Linked DNA regions of Homo sapiens. The protein of the gene in region 3 purifies or fractionates together with the protein of the main gene of each other region. This does not show direct contact. Each region holds a gene or a part of one and is shown on either strand. Other genes may lie near its edges.

Region 1 (2,914 bases), on a different chromosome or scaffold from region 3:
TGGAAGAGCAGATCTGGAATGCGGCTGTATTTGGGGAAGTGAAACTGAAGATGGGAGTATAGTTCTCACACTGAAGAGCATGCAAATCACCAAGGAAACTTGCTCACGCCAGAATGCTGAGCTGCACCCCAGCCCTAGGGAACCTGTCTCTAGAGAGGGACTTAGGAACGGATCTGTGGTTTAAACATTTTCCAGTGACTTTTATGTGCACCAAAGTTAAAGCACCTCTCGCCTAGAGCATAAAAAAGGAGCTGGAGATGCTGATTCCAGGCAGTCAACAGGCAGCCACATTCCACTGGGAAACTCTGGAGTTTTAGGGCAGTGAATGGAGAAAAGGGGAAATCCGAGAGTAGGGGCGATCAGGACAGGCACCAATATGCAGTCCCAAAGTGCAAATGAAGTCTTTGCATATTTTTCACCAGAAGTGACTCTCATAAAATAAATCTCTCCAAAGACTACTTTTGCTGTACATCTGGCTTTTCCCTTATATTCACAGAAATATTCCCATTTTGTCCAATATATTTTTTTCAGTGAATCACAATTAAAAAACAAACATGTACTTCTAATATCTGAGAAATAAACCAAGAAAGGACAAGAGCTATTAGGAGTGTTCTCTTTATTTCTCTTTGGTTTCTTAACACAAAAGACATGCATTCTATAAATAAAAGGAACTAAGATTTTCTGGGAAACCATAAATTGGGAGGAATTCCCACAGTCACACCTCTGTGGTCAAGAGGATGGTCTTCAGCCCCCATCTGGCTGTAATCTCTGATGAAATCCAGAAGAGAAGGCCCGTGTGTTATCCAAGAAGGTGAAACACTCAAGGACAGTGAATGCCACAGTCCTCTGCTCAGAGCTGGGCTAGGCCCCAAGGCCCACTGAGTACAATGTCTACCCTATCTCCTTGTTACATCCTTTTTACAATATCCTTGGGTGATGCTTCTTTTCATGGGGCTATTGGAAAGGCTCCAACACCAAAGAGCCAGACCAGCCATTTACGAATAGCCATTCACCATCGGACTGAGGAACCTACTGGGAGAGTGTGAATATGTTGGTGTTTCCTGACTTGTGCTCAGAGCCCAGATCAAAACACTGGCTTGATCTTACTTTGAAACATCGACCTCAGGTGCAGCAGTGTAAATTCTACACCAGGAGGTGGGATTGGACTCAGGAAGTCCACTACAAGAGCAGCAGGCCATGGTAGAAAATGATCTGCCATACCCAGTGGCAAAATCTGGGCCAGTATCCTAAGGACCCACTCAGTAGCCCACAGACCGATTCTTAATACCTTCACAATCCAGGCTTGTTGGTGCTACTTCAAATTCACAAAAGAAAGGGGCTTATAATAAGACAAGCACTGATACACTCCTAACAGGAAATGCACACCCCACCCACCTTCCGAGTCTACCCCTACAGGCAAACCAGGAAGGAGGGAGAAATGCTGGAGCCCTACCACGAGCCCAGGTTAAACGACATCCGATATCAGATTGTTGAGACGTTAAAAATAAAAATATCATTTTCAAGTGCTTGTAGCAGAGGCCTAGCTCCTAAGTTGTAGGTAACAAAGGTACTTCCCTCTGAATACATGGCGATTGCACACACTGGTAAACCTGACGGTCCTGGGGTGGGGGAGACACCCCAGGCTCCACATTGTGCCTTTCTGAACAGGCTTCCAGGCCACCCCAGGCAGGCAGCAAAGGATAGGAAACCAAGCAGGTGGAGACTGGAGCCCTAAGACTCAGTCTTGGGTTACAGGAATTGAATCTTCTTTTAGTCTCTACTGGAAGAATTTTAGAAAACCAATTTTGGCAGCAGCAGTTGAAGGACAGCCCCACTGCCCAGTGCACTGGCAAGAGAAAATGTCCTCCTCTTTGAGTCCCGCTGTGCTACATTAGGTCCTATCCAGGGAGGAGGAAGCAATATGAAATCTTTCCAAAAGGTAAAGGTCATTTGCCAAGATTAGAGGAAGAAATATAAAATCTGTTCTTTGCAGCAGCAAGAGATTCTTTCGGCCTTTAGTTCTTTATGTCATAAAAGCCAGCTGTGCTTGAATGTAAAGGTCCACCTTGCTGGTCAGTCTGCCCAGGGCTGGAGGGAGGCCAGACTCTTGGGATTGGCGAGTGGATGGAGGAGCAGTGGAATGGCAGAGCAGACAAGGTTACCAGACCAAGCCCGCCCACAGCTGGTAGAAGGAAGCCCTGGTTAGGTTCTAGAGGTGCATATGGTCAACGTGCCCCAGAAGCATCACAATGAGGGAAATCATCCAAGAACGAGATTGATGGGCAAGTGAGAATCTGGCCAGACCTGCTGTTTCCTGCTGGTCAAAAAAGGAAGCAATGTTAGTGAGAGTGGGGAATCTGAATGAGCGCCATGGTGGCAGTAGGAGGTAATCACAGGGGCGCCTGGAGCCCCCAGCCACAGCTAGGAGCCCCCACCAAGAAGAGTGGCAGTAATTCAGCAGATAGCCTAACTCTCTACGCCTATGATTTTAAAAGTCCTCTGATGGTGGGTGAGAAGACAAACCCCATGAGCACCTTACTACAGGCCCAGTCAAGAGTGCACTGATTCCACACACACTGGGGCTCAGAGGGAACCCCCAGCTCAATGCGAGGCCTCAGGACCCTGGGATCCGAATGTGGGGTGGATACCGCCCTTCTCCAGTTAGACGATTTTCCATTTAAACATAGATTTGCCGTTAGTGTCTTTTATGCTTTTTTCTTCTTGCAAAATTTGTTCACATAAAAAAATTATTTTTCTTTCCAGTTTCTTTCAAGTGTTTCTTTGTTTAAATTTCCTTCAGTTTCTTTCAAGTATCTTTTTTTCCCTTCTGTTCTCCTGGACAGATCAAAAGGCCTCACTGAAATCCCAAAATTAGACATGGGGAAAACTTCTCTTCTCCCTGCTTACCCAGCAA
Region 2 (3,727 bases), on a different chromosome or scaffold from region 3:
CCTATGAACTTGACTGAGGTAGTTGTTGAATATATTTTCATACATCAAATGTGGCTTTGTTCTGTTTTCTTTAGCTGTTGTTTCTAGTGTATTTTCAGTGGTCCAGGTTTTCCTAACAAGATTTTTTTTTTTTTTTTGTGGCAGGGTCTCACTCTATTGCCCAGACTGGAGTGCAGTGGCCCTATCTTGACTCACTGCAACCTCTGCCTCCCAGGTTTAAGTGATTCTCCTGCATCAGCCTCCCAACTAGCTGGAAATATAGGCATGCACCACCACGCCCAGCTAATTTTTTTGTATTTTTGGTAGAGACGGGGTTTCATCATGTTGATCAGGCTGCTCTTGAACTCCTGACCTCAGGTGATCCACCTGCCTCAGCCTCCCGGCATGAGCCACCACGCCCGGCCCTTAATAACACTTTTATAACAAAAGGCTTCTCATTCATAGACATCATCTCTTAAAAAAAAGAAAAAGAAAAAAGAATAAGAAAAATAAAATATCTGGTTCCATTTGGCATAAACTGGCTCTGTGGTTGTACCTATTTTGTCAAAACAATAACCACCTGAGTACAAATACCTCTGTGCCTGCTCAGCGTGAGAGCTGTGAATGTTAGCCATTTCCCTGTCTCCTTCCAGGCAGGTATGTCCACGTGACTTGTTTGGCTAACGAAACGCAAGTGGAGTGACCTGTGTCACTTCCAGGTAAAACTGTGTTAAAAGCCAGTGAAAGATTTGTCACAATCACTTTCCCTCTGCCGCAGTGACCATCCAGATAGAGGCAGTGGTCTCAGCCTGGGTCATAGAGGACAGTGAGCGGAGCCCCCTGCCTTCCTGTGTTAGACGTATTCGATGAGCTAGAAATAAACTTTTGTTGTGGTCAGACCCTGAGATTCGGGGATTTGAGTGTTACTGTGGCCTAGCCTGGTCAAGCCTGCGTAATGAATATTATCAGATAAGCTGCATGTATGCGGGGATTTCTGGCTCTGGTTTACCAGATACCTTGGGAGCTGTGGGGAGGGCCCTGAAAGAGGCTTGTCCTATGAATCATGCTCCTTTTACTGTGTGGGAGATGGCAGGTGTGCTGTTCCCATCATGCTCCAGTCTGCTTTGTGATTTTAATCAAGAGTGGCAAAAATGGCGTTTAGATGTTTAATTGCATTCTGTAAGGGCAGACCATGTTAAAGTGTAAAATAGGTAAAGGCTGTATGCCTGGAAGGGATAAGAATCAAGGCTTTCATTTTTACTTTGAAAAACACAATTTATATATTTTTAACAATTTTCAGTGCACTTCCAAGTTTTCCAATACAGAGGAATGTTCGTGGGTGAGTTGTGAAAAGATGATTCTTCCCAAATGCAGTTATCAGTGGATACATTTCAGAAATTATTTTGTCACTGAAGGACATTTGAAATGAATCATCCGTACTTACCATTGACTAATACGTTTTTTTTCAGGCAGCTTCAAAGAGTATTTTAAATATGATTTCCTGGCTATCTGATTTCGGATCTAAGAGTATCAGACTTAGGTTTTGCTGTTAATGTCCTAGGGGCAGTGTGTTCACTCTTTTATTCTGAGTTAAACAGAAGGCAAGCCGGGAGCATTGTGCTTTGGACAGAGCTGTGCTGCATTCTTAGGGGACACTGGCTATAAATCCAGTCTCCCTAGAGGTTAACAATCAAAGTTCTCCCCTTATTATAGTCAGGCGAGTGATATGATGATGATAAATTGCTTGGACGTGACTGGCCCAAGCACTAGTGTGATGAATTATGTTGTTCGGGGCATGACCGAAGATCTTCTATTGTCAGCTGGCAATGCTAAGTATTGGCAGTATTCATAAATAGCCTTTTGCCAATGGTGGTCTCTGCTTTACATATTAAATTCTCTGTTTTCACAGGTTGTGGTTCTTAGTCATCTGTGTCCTCCACTGAATTCACTTACATAATCAGCCTTTTTTTTTTTCCTGTTCCCTACTTATTAAACGGGTGGGATGTGCTCACTTGTGTATGGTAAACACTGAGTTCTTTCTTCACAGAAACTGTTAAAAGAGTAATTATTAGTTCTTTTTACTAAATCCAGAGTAATAGCAACTTATCTTGCAGTGGCTTAATTGGGTAATTATTTGGTGTGTGAAGAGCACTTTGAAGAGAATATTGGTAAATATTGTTAATTTCGTGCTCTTTTATGTAACTGAAAGCCCATTGCGACCACAAAATCCTTGGTGTTACTGTGTACCCACAAAATTTCTTTCCTGATGTGGCTTACTATTTTCCAAATTATTTGTTTGTTGATTTTTAAAAACATTTTTTAAATTTTCATAAATTCTCAAAGTTATCTCATGTTTATGCCTTGACAATTCGACATGTCTCATCTCCTACATTCTTGCATATCTGAAAGGTTAGATGTTATCAGTCTTGCTCTCTAACAGTTTGGAGGACAGATAAAGCCCGACCATGTAATTGAGAAATTGAAATAAAGATTTATTTGGTCAGAGCCCATGCCCTGAGCTGTCATCTGATTGCCATCAGAATTTGTTTAAAAGTGTTAGGTTGGCCATGCACGGTGGCTCATGCTGTAATCCCGGCACTTTGGGAGGCCAAGGCGGGAGGATTGCTTGAGCTCAGGAGTTCAAGACCAGCCTGGGCAACAGTGAGACTCCCATCTCTATTAAATAAGTAAATAAGAATTAGGTTGACTTGCATGTGCCTGGCCAGCTCTTTTGACAGATTTTCTTCTCACTTTATAAATTCAGAGCCTGCAGGCCAGGCGTGGTGTCTCATGCCTGTAATCCTAGCACTTTGGGAGACCAAGGCAGGCGGACCACTTGAGGTCAAGAGTTCGATACCAGCCTGGCCAACATGGCGAAACCCCATCTCTACTAAAAATACAAAAATTAGCCAGGCATACGTCTGTAAGTCCAGCTACTCAGGAGGTTGAGGCAGGAGAATCGCCTGAACCCGGGAGGCGAAGGTTGCAGTGAGCCAAGATTGTGCCACTGCATACCAGCCTGGGTGACAGAGTGATACTCTGTCTCAAAAACAATAAAAATAAGATGAAATAAAATGTAGAGCCCCCAGGTGTAATTAAGGGCCATTTCTGTAGCTTAGATTAGATGACCTTGATTACTCACTATGTTTGTCTTCCTAGGGCTGCCATCACAAAATACCACAAACTGGGTGGCTTTAACAACAGACATTTATTTTCTCACAGCTCTGGCAGCTGGAAGTCCCAGATCAAGGTGTCAGCAGTGTTGGCCTCTTCTGAGGTCTCTCTCTTTGGCTTGTGGATGGCCGTCTTCCCTTTTATGCATGTCTGGGTATTGATCTTTTATAGGGACACCAGTCCTATTGGATTGAGACCTACCCTAACAACCCCCTTTTAACTTAATTACTTCTGTAAAGACTATCTGCAAATACAACCACATCCTAAGGTGCTGAGGGTTCGGGCTGCAACAGACAAATTTTGCAGGGAGATACAACTGAGCCCAAAATGCTCCACTGCAATAGTAATGGTCTGTTTGGAAGCTACTGTTTTTGGAGTTATTTTCTTTGATTGTTAAATTTGACCTTCCAAGTGATGACTACACATCTTTGGAGAATCTCCTCAGTTCAGGAACTTCTTTTTAACTAACATTACTTGGAGGAGAGCTTAATGCTCGTGACTTTAAACATTTATGTAATTAGGTAAAAAGGGAAGCAACATTATTAAATGACTTGGATAGAGTTCATCAAGCAGT
Region 3 (3,600 bases):
TCGTAGCTGTGAAAGTTAGACTCAGGCCTCCTTTCCACAGACCCAGACACGCAACTACCCCGGAAAGCACCCCCGCCCTGCACCCCCATCCTCCTCACCTCCCATAGGAGCTGCAGCACAGAGATTTCAACACAGGGGTTACAAAGCTGAGTCTCAGAGGTTCAGATAGCTTTCTAATGGCCTCGAGGCTCCGCGGGGAAAAAAAAAAGTATAGCAAAGAGTTGCCATCCAGTCCTGGGGCTGTCTAGCGCCTTTATGCGTAGTGGGTACGGGGTTGGGGAAAGAGTGACCAAGGGGAAGAGAGTGTAGGCTCAGCTCACGGGTCGCCCAACAGCCTCAGACAAGCCACTTGACCCCTGGACTCAGTTTGGGAACCTGTAGCAATGGGTTTGACCTCTTCTCCTGGCTGCGAGTATCACCACTAGGGAGAGGCAAAGGCTTGCAGAAACCCCAACTCCCGCTCAGGCAGCGCGCTGCCCCGGGCTCCGGTAGGGTGGGGACTGGTCGCGAAGGCTAGAGAAGGCAATGGCAGGGGAGGTCAGTCCCTGCCGCGGGCCGGCTGCAGAGCGGACGTTCCGCCCTGCTCCCGGCCCCCTCTTCGCCCGCCGGGTTCGCCGTGTCGAATAACTGCTGTCCGGAGCTTTCGTGACGCGGAGCTTCAACTGCTGCGATCCGGAAGAAGCGAAAAGGAGTCCCCCCCGCCCCGCACCCTGAGCGCCCGGGCGTGCAAACGTGGGTGGCGGAGAGCGGCTGCCCTCCCCTCCCCTGTCCCCCCTCCCCTCGCGGCGCTCCCGTGTGTGCGGGTGTGTGAGTGCGTGTGTCTCCCTCGCTCACTCTCGCACACGTTCCGGCACTAGTGCAGGCGGCGAGCCGGCGGCTCTCCGCTCGCTCGCTCCGGCAGCTGCGTTCCCGCCTCGCCCCGCCGCCGCCGCCGCCGCCGCCGCCGCCGCCTCTGCAGTCGCAGCCGGGCATGGTGAGTGAGTGAGGTCCAGCCGCCGCGCGCTCTCCCGGCTCGCCGCCGGACCCCAGCCTCAACCGGCTCCGTCCCAGGGAGCCAGCCTGCGGCGGGAGCGCGCTGCGGGGCCGGGCGGCTGGGGGACCCGGGCGGCCGAGCTGCGCCTGGAGGGGCGGCCCGTGCGCTCTCGGTTCCAGGCGCGCAGGGCCGCGGGACCCCGTCTTGGGAGCGGGCTCTACGCCCCTCCCGGCTCCGAGTCTCTCTCCTCGAGGGCTGCGCGCACCCTCCCCGCCCGCCTGCCCGCGGTTCTCCTCCTGCTCCCGGAGCGCCAGTCGCCCCACCCCGTGACCGGCTCCCCGTCTTGTCCCGCAGGACCCGCCCGGACGGGACCACGCCGCCGCCGCCGCCGCCGCCGCCCGGAGCCGCGCTTCGGGTCCTGCCTGAGCCGAGCCGCGCGCGGGGCCGCAGTCACCGCCGGCGGGGGATGGGGCTGCCCAGGAGGCGCGCCGAGCCCGCAGGGGGAGCGCGGAGCCGGCGCGCAGCCTGAGAGCCCGAGCAGCCCGCGCCGGGCCGGTCCGTGCGCACCGCGCGCCGCCGCCGCCACTGCCGCCCGCGCCTCGATGGCGCCATCGCCCCGGAGCCGCTGACCGCTCAGCGCCTCCAGCCCGGCCCGCGCGGCGGGTCCTCCGAGCCCGGCCCGCCGGGGGAGCGGCCTGCCGCGGAAGCCTCCCCGCGCCCTCCCGCCCGGCCCCGCCATGGCGCTGCGGCGCCTCCTGCTGCTGCTGCTGCTCTCGCTGGAGTCCCTGGACCTGCTGCCCAGCGTCCACGGAGCCCGCGGCCGCGCCGCCAACCGGACCCTGAGTGCAGGCGGCGCTGCCGTCGGGGGCCGGAGGGCCGGGGGCGCCCTGGCACGGGGCGGCCGCGAGCTGAACGGCACCGCCCGGGCGCCCGGAATCCCGGAGGCGGGAAGCCGGCGGGGGCAGCCCGCGGCGGCTGTGGCGGCGGCGGCCAGCGCGGCCGTCACCTACGAGACGTGCTGGGGCTACTACGACGTGAGCGGCCAGTACGACAAGGAGTTCGAGTGTAACAACAGCGAGAGCGGCTACCTGTACTGCTGCGGTACCTGCTACTACCGCTTCTGCTGCAAGAAGCGCCACGAGAAGCTGGACCAGCGCCAGTGCACCAACTACCAGAGCCCGGTGTGGGTACAGACGCCCAGCACCAAGGTGGTGTCGCCGGGGCCCGAGAACAAGTACGACCCGGAGAAGGACAAGACCAACTTCACCGTCTACATCACCTGCGGGGTGATCGCCTTCGTCATCGTGGCCGGCGTCTTCGCCAAGGTCTCCTACGACAAGGCCCACCGCCCTCCACGGGAGATGAACATCCACAGGTGAGAGCGCCGCGTGCCGCGCGCCCCGGTCTCCCCGCGGCCTCACCCTCTCAGCTTGCTTCCCCTGTCCTCTTCACTCTCGGCATCATCACACCTCCCCAGGCCCTCTAGTCATTTCCACCATCGCTCCTTTTGCATGCAATAAATCAGGGTCTTCTTGTGCCCCCTCCTCCATTTCTTCAGAACCGGGAATGCATGCTTTGGTGGTAGGGGGATTTACAAGGCAGAGTAAGAATTGGTTGAGTGCATGAAGTTCCAAGTGTAAGAATGTTACAAATTCTGTAATCGTGGATGAGGATCCAGGGTTCTGCTTTCCTGGCATGAGGGCACTTTGGTGTAGGTTCTTAATGGCATTTAGTTTTTTGAGTCAAATCAGAGTGTCATCTTCAATATAGGAAACTGACCAATGTTGGAACCTTACTGAAAGCGGTACCAAGTGGCTTAGGGTCAACTGAGATGTTCTCGTACATTAGGAATTGGGGTTTTATAGAAAGGATGCCTCCTGCCGGAAGTAGGGATAAAGATTTCTCCATTCCATGTTGACCAAGCACAGATGGTGTCTCCTCATTGCATCCTGCGGAGTGGGATGTTTATCTTTCCTGCTGAGACTAGAGGACTCGTTCTTTGAAACCCTGTAGGCAGAACTCTGAGTTAACAGTACTCGCCTGTGTTAAACCTGGTGGGGCATCTTTCACTGCTTACGTTCGAAAGACAGTGGGAGCTGCCTCCTACCAAAACTTACGCCAAGAGCTCAAACTATGGCAGTCCCTGGTTGCACGCTGAATGCTGCCCCGACGCACCATCTTGCCCCCCAGTGAGCCCTTGGGGAAGTCAAAGCCAAGGGGATGACAGAAACCCAGCCTCCCCTTAGAACTCTAGGAATGACACACCCAGAGGATGCAGAGTTAGCTCGGCTTCCTGTCCCCTCATGTTGATGGATGGCTGGACATGGTGCAAGAGTCCTCTCAGGGAACAAACCCTGCCCCGGGAGATGCCTCCATTTCTGTTGCATGGTGTGGGCACTGCCCTAGTCACCATGAGCACCCCCCAGACCACTGCTTGTCAGTCAGTCCTGCAGGCCCCCACACTGACCCATTCACCTTGAGCTCTTCTCTGCGTCCTGCTTGTTATTCTTACCACCTGAAAACCGCCTTCCTCGCTGCTGTGCACATTAATCACCCCTGCCTTGCTGAAGAGAGAGAAAGGCAGATAGAAATTTCTAGGCATGTTAAAAGAGCTGATTTTTTTTTTC

Evidence for each region.
Region 1: the proteins of SHISA6 (region 3) and KLHL18 purify together in Homo sapiens (affinity purification with mass spectrometry; one large-scale study listed by BioGRID and IntAct). This does not show direct contact.
Region 2: the proteins of SHISA6 (region 3) and PTER purify together in Homo sapiens (affinity purification with mass spectrometry; one large-scale study listed by BioGRID and IntAct). This does not show direct contact.

Annotation. Positions count from the first base shown.
Region 1 is NC_000003.12:47,344,502-47,347,415, reverse strand, and holds the end of KLHL18 (kelch-like protein 18), read right to left. Parts: 3' UTR 600-2,914; downstream 1-599. UniProt on the Homo sapiens protein: Substrate-specific adapter of a BCR (BTB-CUL3-RBX1) E3 ubiquitin-protein ligase complex required for mitotic progression and cytokinesis.
Region 2 is NC_000010.11:16,439,947-16,443,673, forward strand, and holds part of PTER (N-acetyltaurine hydrolase), read left to right. Parts: intron 1-3,727. UniProt on the Homo sapiens protein: N-acetyltaurine hydrolase that regulates feeding by catalyzing the hydrolysis of N-acetyltaurine into taurine and acetate. N-acetyltaurine has anorexigenic and anti-obesity effects that are dependent on GFRAL receptor and GDF15.
Region 3 is NC_000017.11:11,239,713-11,243,312, forward strand, and holds the start of SHISA6 (protein shisa-6 isoform 1 precursor), read left to right. Parts: upstream 1-1,500; 5' UTR 1,501-1,710; coding exon 1,711-2,348; intron 2,349-3,600. UniProt on the Homo sapiens protein: Involved in maintenance of high-frequency synaptic transmission at hippocampal CA3-CA1 synapses.